Linked DNA regions of Homo sapiens: region 1 is linked to region 2. The links come from fine-mapping of genetic effects on gene expression. Tissue or cell type: whole blood. Region 2 holds a variant in brackets; the other region holds the start of a gene. All regions are shown on one strand. Distances are from middle to middle.

Region 1 (8,056 bases), 53 kb after region 2:
AAATAGTCATTAGAACTCCTGTACTTGAAAAAACTCAAAGCCTTAACTTAAATATTTGAAACATGACAAAAAAAGTAATACGAGAATATTAGTTAATATTATTTTGTTAAATATTGTAATTTATACTTTATCTTCAGGATGCTTTTCCATTTAAAAAATAATCAGGACAATTTTAACAAATATGTTTATCTCACCCAATCATGATGATTGAGTAATAATTCTCCATTTCACATTCAGTACTGTAGCCAGGAAGTACAGTAATGGATACAGTTGCTACTACATTTACCATCTGACCATATGGTATAACATACATCTGCCAAGGAGAACAAGCATTCCTTTACAATAACAAACAATATAGGCACTGTCTTAAGACAGACATCAGTTACATATCTCTTTCTTTTCATTAATTTATCCCACTGTGACTATGTAGCACATATATGTCAGGCACTCACTTTGACACTGAAAACTCAAAGAATTGTGCAACCAGGTCTCTGACCTTAAGCAGTGCAGTCTGGCAGGGGAGATGGTCATGTTGGCAAATGCTTATCATATGAATGTCATAAGTGTAACAAAAGTATATGTAAGGTGTGGGGAGAAACTTGCCTAACTGCTGGAATCCAAGGATCAGGTCAGGAGACAATCATAGAGAAGATGGTCTTTGAGTTGAGTACTGAGATCTTGGTGGGAAATATAATGTGGTAATCAAGAGAATAGACTAACCAGATAGCCAGACTATCAGGTTTCAAATCCTAGCTCTGCTACTTGCTAGCTAGGGAATCTCTTTTTTTTTTTCTTTGAGGTGGAATCTCATTCTTCTTGCCCAGGCTGGAGTGCAGTGGCGCGATCTCAGCTCACTGCAACCTCTGCCTCCAGGGTTCAAGCGATTCTCCTGCCTCAGCCTCCGGACTAGCTGGGATTGCAGGCATGCGCAACCATGCCCGGTTAATTTTAGTAGAGATGGGATTTCGCCATGTTGGCCAGGCTGGTCTCGAACTCCTGAACTTAAGTTATCTGCCCGCCTTGGCATCCCCAAGTGCTGGGATTACAGGCGTGAGCCACTGCGCCTGGCCTAGCTAGGGAATTTTAGGCATATTATTTAATCTCTCTGTGCTTCCATTTTCCCCTTTGTAGGATGGGCGTAATAGCTGGGCATGCTCATAGGGTAGAAGTGAGGTTATATGAGTTAGTATGTGTCGCAGTGAGGATTACATAAATTAGTATGTGTCATGGGCTCAGTCAGTATTAGCTAGGAGGCCAGGGATAGGAGAATTGGAGAAAGCAAGGAAACATGCAGAGGTATGGCAGTCTTGGTTTGTGAAAACTGAAATATGAGGTGCATTTGGGTGGAGGGTGGTGGAAAATGGCAATGGGAATGGATAGATCAGAGGAGAGAACTTTAATGCCATTCCAGAGGCTCATGCTTATGCAGCTCTTGGAGAATTTTACGGACAAATTCACATTTGCATTATAGAAAGACAACTATGGAGCAGTGGAGAAGGAGTAGAGGCTGGAAGATTAGGTAAGAAGTTACTGATGAGGAGAGATGATAAAGAATTGGCTGGCCAGGCGCGGTGGCTCACGCCTGTGATCCCAGTACTTTGGGAGACCGAGGTGGGGCAGATCATGAGGTCAGGAGTTCGAGACCAGCCTGACAAACATGGTGAAACCCTGTTTCTATTAAAAATGCAAAAAGTAGCTGGGCATGGTGGCACACATCTGTAATCCCAGCTACTCGGTGGGGGCTGAGACAGGAGAATCGCTTGAACCTGGGAGGCGGAGGTTGCAGTGAGCTGAGATTGCGCCATTGTACTCCAGCCTGGGTGACAGAACTAGACTCCATCTCAAAAACAAACAAAAAAATACAACAACAAAAAGAATTGGCTAAGAAATAGAAGGCAGGGTGCAGATTTAAAAGTCATTTAGGAGGGAAAACTGGTGAGATGCGGAGTAAGGGGATGAGGCAGGAAGAGTGGTGGATGATTCTTAGATTTCTAGTTTGGATGATTTGATAAAAGGCAGGAGGAAAAGTGGGTTTGGGGATAAAGTTTTAGATTTGGTGAGCTTGATGGACCTGTGAAATGACCAGAATGAGTGTTTAGGCCTGTCACTTGGGGACTGGAAGTCAAGATTTGAGATTCCTCTTGATATGGGCAGTAGTTGACGTGGGAATGTGAGTGACAGCGTGACACAGGCTGTATACAGAAGGACGTTCAGGAATGGTCAGGAAAGCCTAAATTGAGTACAGCCAGCAAAGGAGAGTGGTCAGAGTAAAGAGGAGATGCAGGAGAAGGTGGAGTCATGGAAAATGAACAGGAAATTCAAGGAGGAAGTGTCCAAACGCAGGCGAGAGGTCAATTAGAATAACTAAGGCCTGTACCTTGGTAGAGCTTAGGAAAACCCACAAACGATTATTTCAATGGAGTAGAACAGATTGGAGTAAGAGATACAGTGAATCCTCCTCATTAACGCCCTAGGTGTTAATACTTTAGGTCAAAAGCTAGGTGAATTCCTGGAGAACCTCCGTGGATGTAGTCCAGTTTCAGGCTTGCTGCATGAGGCAGATCTGGCTTCTCCTTGCAGGACTATTTACCCAGAGCCCAGCAAGGAGCTTGGCACATTCACATGCATTCTTTAAATATTGGGGGAAAGAATGGATGAACGGTTTGTGGCCGCCAGAAACCTGCCTTGGTACAGCGCTGGGCGCTCCCAGTACATGGCTAGCTCCAGGAAGTTAGGAGGCCTTTGGGAGTTACCAAAGAAGTTCTGTTGTTTTGGTAAGAACAAATTCATTAGTTATAGGGTTGATCTGGTCGTTTAATGCCTGTGCTGGTGATGATGGTGATAACGGGTCTACTCAGGTGGGTCCTGTTCTGAAACGTAGGTAAGCTCTTGGTACAGTTTCAGATGTGACTTTCTGAGTGAGTTTGCTTTCTTAGCTGTTTTATTTCCTTCCTGTGTGAAGGTGTCTTATCTCTCCAACTGGATACTACATTTCTGAAGGGCAAGGACCACTTACTCCACAGGAGTCTTCTGTCCTCCTTGCAGCACGAATTTGTCCACTTGATCCTCAGCTCAGAATCCTAGTGCTCCTCAGCCTCAGTTGATTTAACGCCCAGGGCAGGTCACACCTGGACTGTCCGCCCTGCGTGACTAGACCCTCAGTGAAAAAATGTGTAGTTGCTTCCCGAAACTTATCCTGGGCGGGCCGAACTGAGGGGATACTGAGAGCTAGCAGTAGGCAGGCAACCTGGACTCCCGCAGCCCGGCCTTGGGTCTCAGTGCACCCCACCCCATCTCACTATAGGGTTACCCCAACTGTCTCCCAGTAGACAGGTCTGGGGAGAGCCTGGTCCTCACTAATGGAGTGACAGCCACCGCAGGGGGGGGACTAAGGTCTCCCCTGGGATGCCCACGCGAGGGAACTGATGTAGGTCTGATACTGAGATTGGGGGGAAAAAGAAGAAAACACGGGGCAGGGGGAGGTGTTTCCACTATCTTCTCCCTTTTTTTGATACTGATGGGGAGGGGAGGTCTGGGATGGATGAAGCTCCTCAACCATCCGTTTCAGCCGCCCCCAGCTGCTCAACTTATCCGCCGCCGCTCGTGCCCGCTTCCAGCCTGCGTAGACCCGGCCGTGGTCGTCCGGAAGGAACCGCGTAGGAAACGGAGGTGGGGTGTCCCCCGGCGCCCCCACCAGAGACCGCCCGGCGCGGCAGGAGGATGTCGGCGCGCGGAGGGCTTGCGTCGCCCGCCCCTCCCCCGCCGCGCCCCCCGCCCCCGCCCACTCCCCGGGGGACCCCCGCGCCCGGGGGAAGCCCCGCGCGGGGCGCCCTCCGCCTGCCTCCGTCCCTCCGCCTCCCCGAGGTCCGGGGCTGCCTCCTCGGGCCGCGCCGGGCCGCCCCGCACTGCGCATGAGCGGGAGCCGGGCAAGCCCGTGAGAGGAGCCGCCGCCGCCGCCGCCGTCCATTCGCTGCGGAGCCGGAGGAGGAGGGGAGAGGCCTGGAGGACACCAACATGGTGAGGCACTGCGGCCGCCCGCCCGCCCTGCCGGCTGGGGGCCGGCGCTGCCGCGCACCCCCGCCCCGGCCGCCCTCCGTCCCGCGGCGACCCTGCAGCCCCGAGCCTCGGCCCGCGGCCTCCGTCCCGCTCCCAGGCGGGGGCTCTCCTGCCTGCCTCTCCCTTCCTCCTTCGCCCCTTCCCGCCCGGGCGCAGCCGCTACGCGAGAGCCGAGGAGGCGGAGCGGAGCCGGGCCTAGTCGGGAGCCCCGGGGAGTTTGGGGCGCGGGGAGCGGCCCCGGTGCCCCTTGCCGGGGCCCGGCGCGGGTGGGGGAGGCGTTGGGGCGGGGGGAGGGGAGGGGGCAACGGCCTTGCCCCTGCCCCTCTGCCGGCTCCATTGTGTCTGGTCGGGGACTGGGGTCTGGGGTTCCGGGTGAGTAGCCTCCCCCCGCCCCGAAGCCGGGGCTTCCCTCTCCGCCCGGCCGGGGAGAAGGAAAGACTTTCCCGGCGCGCCTCTCCCTCCTCCGCTCCCGGCTCCAATACCCCGCAAGTCTCCCAGGCAGTTTTGCTTGGGGCGGGGTATCAGCCCTTTTCCTTTCTCCATCACCTCTCGAGGCGTCCCATGCTTTTGGAGAAGGAGAGTTTCCCCGGCCAGTTGGTGGAGGTTATATTTACCTCTCTACTGAAAACATGGGAGACTGCTGAGCTTGGGGGAGGGGGTACGGAAGTGCAACCTGTTCTCATTTCATAAAATTAGGGAACACAGACTAGCGAGCGCCCTTTCGAGCACCTATTTTATTTGCTTGGGGGTGGGAGGAGTAATTGCTTTATTATAGTAGTTAAGGGCCATTTGTGATTTTTTTTAAAACAGTTTGTCAAGTTACTCTCCTTTTTTGTTTGGGGGGGGGAAAAAGTCCTCTCCAGGCTTGCAGACCCTTGTGGTCGAGTTGTTTACTTTGGTAATTAAGTACCTGACTCTGCTGGACGCTCTTCGCGTTTCAGAAGCGCTGTTTGGCATTGTACAGTCTGAGCGTGAGTTGAATTCCGTGCAGGTTACTGTATGAATAGTAAAAATGATATTGTTGTCCTTTGCTCGTGGGGAACATAAAGGCCTCTTTGAGGAGGGTGTGTGTGCGCGCCTGTGTTAAGGGAATGCTCCAGTGTCTTTGTTTTTAGTTGGTCTTATTTTTGCTGAATGACACTTCTAGTCCCATCCTCCAGCTTGGCAGTATTTTGTTGTCATGTATGGATATATGGTTTAGTCTGACACATATTTAACACTTATGTTCTGTGGCAAGTTGTGTAGGAATTTACAGTTTGAATTGGTAAGAAAACTTTAAAGTGCAGGTTAATGTATAGATTAGTATTACAGTGTTCAGAGATCCACCAGGCAGTCTAAACAGTTTCTAGTTTCTTAAGTATTTAGATGGTCATAGACATTACTCCTGAAGTTTCCAGACTCTTAGCATTTAGATAAGTATAGTAAGCTCGAAGTAATGACGTTAATTCCCTGGGAAACACTCAGCCACAGCTGAAATGTGTGCTCTTCAGGATGGTCTCCAGATCCGCATCATCCCCTAGACAGTGGGGTCCCGGAAATACTCATCACCTGTTCAGGAATTCAGGCATCAAGTGGTTCGTAGGGAGAGTTCAGCTTGTAAGCTTCTATTCTTTTGGTTAATATTAAAATTAGCTAGTTTTGAAACTTAGCCATAACCCATGTAATTCTACCAGTGGTGACAAGATATTAATTTAAAACATATCCTGTGGCTGAACTCAGTTTATGTCATGAGAATTGTCGTGATATTCTCTGGTTTAGCTAACTCACCGTAGGGGCTGGGCACGGTGGCTCATGCCTGTAATCCCAGCACCCTGGGTCACCGAAGCAGGAGGATTGCTTGAGAGCCTAGGAGTTTGAGACCAGCCTGCGCAACATAGTAGTGAGACTCCATCCCAAGGAAAAAAAATAGCCAAGCATGCTGGTGCTAGCCTGTGGTTGCCCCTACTCCAGAGGATGAGGTGGGAGGATTACTTGAGCTGGGAGGTTGAGGCTGCTGTGAGCCCTGCCACTGCACCACTCCAGCCTGGCTAACAGACCTTGTCTCTTAAAAAAAATAATAAGAAAGGAAAGAGACTCACCACTGGCCCTAATCGAAGTTAGGCAGTAAGAATTTTATAGTTAAGAAGTTGTTTCATTATAAAGTTATCTTACATATATTTGTTTCTTTATGCAGTTTCGGGGCTGTGAGTTTTTTGGTGTCTGTAGCTGCAGCCCATTTCCAGAGCACATGTTATTGTCAGTTCTAGAGCAAACTTAAATGATGGGATATTTGAAATACTTTGTATAAGTAAAAAAGTTCTGTTAACTTCCTCCCTCCCCCCACACACAGACTAAAAACGACTCCAAAATTAGATAATATTCTGTTACTTTGGAACTTGTTTTTTGTTGTTGTTGTTTTTTTTTTTTTGAGATGGAGTTTTTGCTCTGTTGCCCAGGCTGGAGTGCAGTGGTGCAATCTTGGCTCACTGCAACCCGTGCCTCCTGGGTTCAAGCGATTCTCCAGCCTAAGCCTCCCAAGTAGCTGGGATTATAGGTGCCCGCCAACATACCCGGCTGATTTTTGTATTTTTAGTAGAGACGAGGTTTCACTATGTTGACCTGGCTGGTCTCGAACTCTTGACTTCAGGTGATCCACCTGCCTCGGCCGCCCAAGGTGCTAGGATTACAGGCGTGAGCCACCACGCCAGCCTGAAACATATTTTTAAAAAGTGTTCGGCTGAGTGCAGTGGCTCACGCCTGTAATCCCAGCACTTTGGGAGGCCAAGGTGGGCGGATCACAAGGTCAAGAGTTTGAGACCAGCCTGGCCAATACGGTGAAACCCCGTCTCTACTAAAAATACAAAAATTAGCCAGGCGTGGTGGTGGGGGCCTGTAGTCTCAGCTACTCAGGAGGCTGAGGCGGGAGAATCACTGGAACCCAGAGGAGGAGGTTGCAGTGAGCCGAGATCGCGTCATTGCACTCCAGCCTGGGCGAGAGCGAGACTCCGTCTCAAAAAAAAAAAAGTGTTCAAAACGTGTGGGTTGTTTTATTTATAAGATGGCAGGATTGGACTTGATGATTTCTAAAGTTTCATCCAGCATAGACATTTTATGATTCTAATGATTTTTAGACTCATAGCATCATAGAATTTTTAGACCTGAAATAGACTCAGAGATCATCTAATTACTCCTCCCCATTTTTACACAAGAAGAAATTGAATATCAAGGAGGTTTTGAGGTTCAGGTTTGCAGGATTGTTGGTTGCAGAACTGAAACTATTTTCTCCTGGTCTACCATTTCCCCCAGTATTATCTGTTAACTCATATGAAATCCAGAAAATTACATTTGAAATTAAATCATATCCATCACTTAAACACAGGAAACCCCATGTTATTTATGAATATGTTAAGTAACAAAATTCATATTAATGGGTGATCAATGATGTTAATGCCTATGTTTTCAATGGCTTTAAATATATATGAACTTTGAAATTTAAGATTATGTTGTCAACAAATACTAGAATTTGTAAATTCAAATACATGTAGGTCTATTCAAGGTTGTCTTTTCATAACTTGTTGCACATTCTTTGCATGTCTACAAATAAAGGAGGTTATCAGTTCTTTTCAGTGATTATTATACGTCTGCTGTGTGCTAGAGATAGTGTTAGGCACTGAAGGGATGTATATATCACAGAAGAGACAAAAATCCTCACTCTGGTGAGGGGTACCTTTTAGTAGGGAGACATAAATAATAAACATAGTATATAGTTTTCTTCTTTACTATGTTAGAAGGTGTTAAGTGCTGTGGGAGAAAGCAGTGTTAGGGAAGGGGATTGGGGGTGCTAGGGCATTGATGGAAGTAGGGTTGCTAAATATCTGTATCACCAATGAGATAATTTTGAACAGAGTAGGGGATGAGGGAATAAGCCATGCAGAAATGTAGAAATCTTGAGGAACAGTGAGACCAATGTGGCTGGAGCAGTGTGTGTGTGTGTGTGTGTGTGTGTGTGTGTGTGTGTGTG
Region 2 (7,188 bases):
CCATTCTTTTCAGATGTGTTTTTTAGTATGAAGGAAAGCTCTTCACTTACCATGGATGCACCCATAAACACTATTTAACCCATTAACTGGAGTGTAACTAATCACCTAACATTGTAGAAATGGATCTCTTTGGCCAGGCGCGGTGGCTCACGTCTGTAATCCCAGCACTTTGGGAGGCCAGGGCGGCTGGATCATGAGGTCAGGAGATCAAGACCATCCTGGCTAACACGGTGAAACCCCATCTCTACTAAAAATACAAAAAATTAGCTGGGCGTGGTGGCACGTGCCTGTGATCCCAGCACTTTAGAAGGCCAGGGTGGGCGGATCATGATGTCAGGAGATCAAGACCATCCTGGCTAACATGGTGAAACCCTGTCTCTACTAAAAATACAAAAAATAAGCTGGGTGTGGTGGCACGCACCTGTAGTCCCAGCTACTCGGGAGGCTGAGACAAGAGAATCGCTTGAACCCGGGAGGCGGAGGTTGCAGTGAACCGAGATCGCGCCACTGCACTCCAGCCTGGACAACAGGGCGAGAGTTCATCTAAAAAAAAAAAAAAAAAAAAAGGAAATGGATCTCTTTTCAGTCAAACACTTGTTCTCCCCACATCCTACACTAATTTCTTATCACTTCTTTTGTTCGCCACTCCTCATAGCCCTACTTTGTTTTGTCCTCTGTACCTGCAGCAACTCCCTTTGTCCCAGAGTCTCAAGACAATCTAAGACTGGAGACTTAGATTCCCCAGGGTTACCCATGACTTATTGTCGAATTACTTCCGCTTTTTCCATCCTGTGATTGAATGTCTACCTAGAGACTTCATAGTGTCATAGAATCCAAGCATAGGAAGGGCCATAGTGGGGTTCATCCTGGCTACCACACATATGCATTGCATCCCTACCCCAGCACACCCACTAAGCTGTTGCCCAACTTCTTCCTAACACCTTGGGAAACTGGAAGTTCATTACCTCATCAGGTAGCTTACAGTTTCAGTCAGTTCTCCATTAGAAAGTTCTGCCTTTAAACCAAACACCGCATGTTCTCACTCATAGGTGGGAATTGAACAATGAGATCACTTGGACACAGGGTGGGGAACATCACACACCGGGGCCTGTCGTGGGGTGGGGGGAGGGGGGAGGGATAGCATTAGGAGATATACCTAATGTAAATGACGAGTTAATAGGTGCAGCACACCAACATGACACATGTATACATATGTAACAAACCTGCACCTTGTGCACATGTACCCTAGAACTTAAAGTATTAAAAAAAAAAAGTTCTGCCCTTTAAATTGATACAAAATCTCAGCTCTCACATACTTTTTGCATTTCAGGCTAGCTCTGACTTTCGGAGCAAACAGAATTTTTAAAAATCTGATCTATTTTTCTCTTTTATTGGTAATTATTATATTACCCTATACAGTTTGAGCATCCCAAATCCCCAAATCCAAAATGCTCCAGAATCGGAAGCTTTTTCAGCACTAACATGATGCTCAAAGGAAATGCTCATTGGAACAGTTCAGATTCCAGATACTTGGATCAGGGATGCTAAGCCAGTTAAATATAATGCAAATAATCCAAAATCCAAAAAAAAAAAAAAAAATCTGAAATTCAAAACACTTCTGGTCCCAAGCATTTTGGGTAAGTGATACTGAACCCGTATTATTATAGGATCCTATCATTAGAATCTTTAATTTCTGAATTCATTTAGATTCATTCAAGATAGCTGTATGGAAAGCTTAAAATGTAAAATGTTTTAAGTCCCGAAAACTGCATCTTTAGAAGATTTGTGCTCTATCCTCATTTTATCCTTTTACATTGAATGAAAATGCATCTAAATACGTCCCATGTGGTATTCCTGAGCCTGACCTTAACGTTTTTAGAATGGAACGTTGTCTTACTGTGACCTTCCTTTTGAAAGTTTATAATTGGTACAGATATGAGGTTCAGAATAAATTGCATCAGCTTAGCTATGCTGAAGCTCCTGGATATTGTCCAATAGAGGATATACACCCAAATGCCTATAAGGGGCCAGGCGCGGTGGCTCATGCCTGTAATCCCAACACTTTGAGAGGCCCAGGGCGGGTGGATCACTTAAGGTCAGGAGTTTGAGACCAGCCTGGCCAACATGGTGAAACCCCATCTCCACTAAAAATAGAAAAGTTAGCCAGCTGTGGTGGCACCCACCTGTAATCCCAGCTACTCTGGAGGCTGAGGCAGGAGAATCACTTGAACCCAGGAGGTGGAGGTTGCAGTGAGCCAAGATCATGCCACTGCACTCCATCCTGGGCGACAGAACGAGACTCGTCTCAAAAAAGAAAAAAAAAAAAGGCCTATAAGGGCTGGGCCAACAACATAAAAACATAAAAGAGTAAAAGAGGCCAGGTGAAAGAAAAATAGTGAATAGTAGAGACTGGTGACCTGGAATGAATTTGCCCCATCAAAAGGTGGTGACTGTGGTACAGTTTATGCCACTATGGGATTAGAGTTTAGATTGCAAATATTCAGATTCTTCAATAGAAGCTAGAATTTTTCACATGAAATTTCATAAGATGTAAACAAAACCAGCCCTTTAAACTTAACAAGAAGAACAAAAAAAGCACATCTGAGCTGCCAGTTTAGGACGTGTGTTTTTTTGTTTTTTTTTTTTTTTGAGACGGAGTCTTGCTCTGTCGCCCAGGCTGGATCCGGTGCAGTGGCGCAATCTTGGCTCACTGCAAGCTCCACCTCCCGGATTCACGCCATTCTCCTGCCTCAGCCTCCAGAGTAGCTGGGACTAGAGGCGCCCGTCACCATGCCCAGCTAATTTTTTTGTATTTTTAGTAGAGACGGGGTTTCACCGTGTTAGCTAG[G/A]ATGGTCTCGATCTCCTGACCTCATGATCCGCCCGCCTTGGCCTCCCAAAGTGCTGGGATTACAGGCATGAGCCACTGTGCCCGGCCAGCACTTGCATTTTATGTTTTCTTTTGTAAGGTGTAAATTTCATAGGCTTGATACTCATAAGTTTGTTACTGAATTTTAAATTTTTTCTAGATCAATTCTCTCCATTTTCGTCTAGCAGTGGAAGAAGACTGAATATCTCGTATACCAGAAACATGACTCTTAAAGATGGTAAAAACAGTAAGTAATGTTTCATTAAAAGAGAAATGTGAGTCATAGAAATGTATCACATTAATCTGAAAAAGAGGATTCCAGCCTGGCCATGATCAGTCAGTTACATTTTTTAAATGCCTAGGCTAAACATTGGAGGGAAATATGCCAATATAATAGAATTGATTGGCTCTGGGTAGTAGAGTTGATGGTATTTGCTTTTCTTCTTTACACTTTTTAAAAATTTTGTAAATATTCTAAAAATATGTCATAAAATAAACATAGCAAAACAGCTGAAATGAAATATGCCAGAATGTTAGAAATATGCCCAAAAAAACCTCTTTTTCCCCAATTCTTTGTACTTTTTTTTTTGCTTTGCAATTTTTCTGCAGCGAGAATGTATTACTTTTAAATAAGAAAAACAGTTTTCAAAACTATGTCAGAGAGGGACGATTACCCACTGCCCATGCAGTGTTTCAGGGGTTTCAGGTGGAAGTGGGTCACTGCAGAGCTGTAATTTATTAAGTGCCTTATCTGATGTAAGTTTTTATCTTCACAACGTAAATGAGGGGGAGTCGCTGTTATACCCACGTATGGAAGATGAAAGCATGGATGGTAAGGCACAGAAGTGAAGTAGTTTAGTCAAGGCTAGTGAGTGGCAGAACTAGGATTCACACCTACTCTTTGTGACATTGACTCTTAGGCTGTTTCCACCACTTTTCCAGTAGAAAATTGATTTTTGATTGTAAACTAATTTGAGTTGGCTCGACTTAGTGACTGATTTTCTTTAACTGATGTCAAAAGAGGCTGACGCTTAAGCCAGAAGGCAGTTTATAAACTTTTGGCTGGAGCAGTGTAGCAGCAGGACCAGAATTCTATGATAGCTGGTCACTGTATCCCTTCTGCTGTGAGACAGTTTGTGTGGGAGGCCCAATGGGCAGAGTCAGAGCTCAGAATCCTGGCTAACCTTGAATGTGACATGTCATTGAACTGTGACAGTTCTGGTATAAAAATATGCCTCCCAGGTAGAGCAGAATACTTTCACCAGCTGATCACAGAACGCTCTTCCTTGGACAGAGGAAAATCTCTTTTACTTCACCTCTATGAAGACACTCACCCAGTAACAAATTTTTTTTTTTTTTTTTTTGACACAGACTCTGGCTCTGTTGCCCAGGCTGGAGTGCAGTGGCACGATCTTGGCTCACTGCAAGCTCCACCTCCTGGGTTCGTGCCATTCTCATGCCTCAGCCTCCCGAGTATCTGAGACTACAGGCACCCACCACCACGCCCGGCTAAGTTTTTGTATTTTTAGTAGAGACAGGGTTTCACCATTTTAGCCAGGATAGTCTCGATCTCCTGACCTTATGATCCACTCACCTCAGCCTCCCAAAGTGCTGGGATTACAGGCGTGAGCCACCATGCCAGCCAGTAACAAATATTTTGTTCACACAAGTTTATTGGGTTACAGCTCTTCAGTTATTTTTCAATCCTGAGCCTAGATGGTCATTATCTTAAGTGCATTGGGCATATTGTTAAGCCTTTATAATGAAAATTTGTAAACATCTTTATATAGTAGCATTCTGCAAATGGTTAACCCATCCATTTATGCTCATTTCATCCTAAAAAATACAACCCCCCAAATCTGGAAGTATCTTATTCTAGACTCCTATATGCTGAATGCAAATATCAAAAGCGGTAAAGTTTCACTGGCTTCTTCAACCTGAATTGAACAGAAGAATTACATATTTGATTGTAATTCATATAGGCCAACTGTGTTATTTGGCATGGCTCTTCACTAAAGCACCAAGCACTGATTTGAAGTATGTTGCATTTTTTGGAATTAAAAAAAGTTTTCATGAAAAAATAAATACATAATTGAAAAGCCAACATGATTGCTGTTCACTACACCCTTTTGGCAGTATTCTATGAAAATAATCCAAGTCTGTATGTAAGAGCTTTCAGAAAATGATACATAGCTAAGTCTCCAAAAAATGCTAATAAGCAATGACCACAATTAAATAGAATGCATGAAACAGGAAGCTTAAGAGACCAGGCTGGTCACAGTGGCTCACACCTGTAATCTCAGCACTTTGGGAGGCCAAGGCGGGAGGATTGCTTGAGGGCAGGAGTTTGAGATCAGCCTAGGTGACATAGTGAGATCCTGTCCCTATTTATAAAATAAAAATTTTTAAAAAGGAAAAAAAAAAAAAAAGATACCAGAAGTGCCAGGCACGGTATCTCCCACCCGTAACCCCAGCACTTTGGGAGGCTGAGGCAGGTGGATCACGAGGTCAGGAGATGGAGACCATCCTGGCTAACATGGTGAAACCCTGTCTCTCCTAAAAAGTACAAAAAATTAGCCAGGCATGGTGGTGGGCGCCTGTAGTCCCAGCTACTCAGGAGGCTGAGGCAGGAGAATGGCATGAACCTGGGAGGTGGAGCTTGCAGTGAGCCGAGATTGCACCACTGCACTCCAGCCTGGGCGACAGAGCGGGACCCTGTCCCAAAAAAAAAAAAAAAAAAAAAAAAGGTGCCAGAAGCATTTATGAGTCCAAAGCAGAAGCAACTTCTAGTGACCACAGTGAGAATGACCAACTATTTTAAGTATTCAAGGCTTGCAAGCTATTCTTACTTTGCTACTAGAGGCCACGTTTCACAGAACCCTGCCTAAACTCAATGATAATAGCTAAGATTTATTGAGTTTTTGGTTTATGTCAGATACTGTATTAAACACTTTCCAAAGATTGTTTCATTTGCATTTTCAGAAAAGGCCAATGAGATTAGTGTTATTGTTAGTGTGAACTTTATAAATTACTAATCTCTGTGAGCCAAGGTCAAGGCTCAGAGAGATTAGTAATTTTCCAAAAGTCACACCAGAAGTTATTGGTGGAGTCAGGGTTTGAACCCACACTCCAGGATACACGTGCTGACCTAATACTGCAGGTGCCACACTTGATACCTTCTTAAATGCATGAGAGGATGTTTAAGGTCCTCTTATATGTGACAAGAGATATCTAGGGTAGGAGTTTTTTTGGTAGTGTCTTTACTGTGATCTGTTGGCATTCGCGCCAGTTAAATACATGTCGTATTTTATAAATTCAAAGAAAATGGCCGTGGTGTAACTGGAGGCACTTTCTGATAAGAAGAGTAAAAGCCTGTTGACATGATATAGGGTGGAGAGTTTTATTCATTCATACATTCAATACAAAGTTTTTGATAAAATAGATATGCCAAGTGATGTGGAGAAGAGAAGGAAATGTCTTTGTCCCTGCTTTTTTTCTGTTAAGGAATTTGCCATTTGGAAGTGTGTATGTTGAGAAGCTGGAGAGCATGATGGTCAAGAGTGCGGGCCCTGGAGTTCCTGTACTTTAGTATTTGACTTTTGTGAACATTTTTATTTTGATAATTTTTCTGAAACAACTGATAGAGAGGAAAATCACTCTTTGTAAACCAGGATGAGGAGAGAATCATAGTGGGTGTTTTGTATGCAGAAGGCTAAATGTTCAGAGGAGGGAGAAATTAAGCTGCCCAGGCCAACTCTTCCCAAGGACAGTGAGGCTGATGTGAATGGGCAATGGGGTTTCTGTGCTGTGGCAGGGCACCAGCAGCGTAGTGAAGGAGAAGCGTGAGCACAGAGCCACAGTGCAGGGAAAGCTGGGGGCATATATGGGGAATTTTTTTTGTGTGTATTGGTTTTTTGTGTTTTGTTTTGAGACGGAGTCTCTCATTCTGTTGCCCAGGCAGGAGTGCCGTGGTATGATCTCGGCTCACTGCAACTTCTGCCTCCCGGGTTCAAGCGATTCTCCTGCCTCAGCCTCCCAAGTAGCTGGGACTACAGGTGTGTGCCACCATGCCCAGCTAATTTTTGTGTTTTTAGTAGAGATGGGGTTTCACCATGTTGGCCAGGCTGGTCTCGAATTCCTGACCTCAGGCTATCCGCCCACCTCGGCCTCCCAAAGTACTGGGATTACAGGTGTGAGCCACCTCCCCAGGCCTAGAGAATGTTAATTGTCCCACTTTCCTATTTGGGTGGAGCATCAGGCCGTCCATGGAGGAGAATGGTAGGAAATAAGACTGAGAGGGTGGGGCCTCCAATATCAGGCCA

What was found. PIP is the estimated chance that this variant, and not a neighbour inherited with it, causes the effect.
Region 1: DCUN1D1 starts here. The variant in region 2 is fine-mapped to the expression of DCUN1D1 in whole blood (TOPMed, PIP above 0.99).

Annotation. Positions count from the first base shown.
Region 1 is chr3:182,976,448-182,984,503 of GRCh38, reverse strand. DCUN1D1 (defective in cullin neddylation 1 domain containing 1) reads left to right here and starts at 3,966. Exons shown (of 7, transcript NM_020640.4): 1 at 3,966-4,017. The coding sequence starts at 4,015. It overlaps LOC105374246 (a long non-coding RNA gene), which reads right to left and starts at 3,697. Exons shown (of 2, transcript XR_924771.2): 1 at 3,017-3,697. RefSeq lists silencers at 3,678-4,117, 4,178-4,297.
Region 2 is chr3:183,029,916-183,037,103 of GRCh38, reverse strand. MCCC1 (methylcrotonyl-CoA carboxylase subunit 1) reads left to right here. Exons shown (of 19, transcript NM_020166.5): 14 at 3,027-3,113. It overlaps LOC124906309 (a long non-coding RNA gene), which reads left to right and starts at 3,120. Exons shown (of 2, transcript XR_007096188.1): 1 at 3,120-5,874; 2 at 5,933-6,520. The variant G/A (reference allele first, on the strand shown) is at 2,849.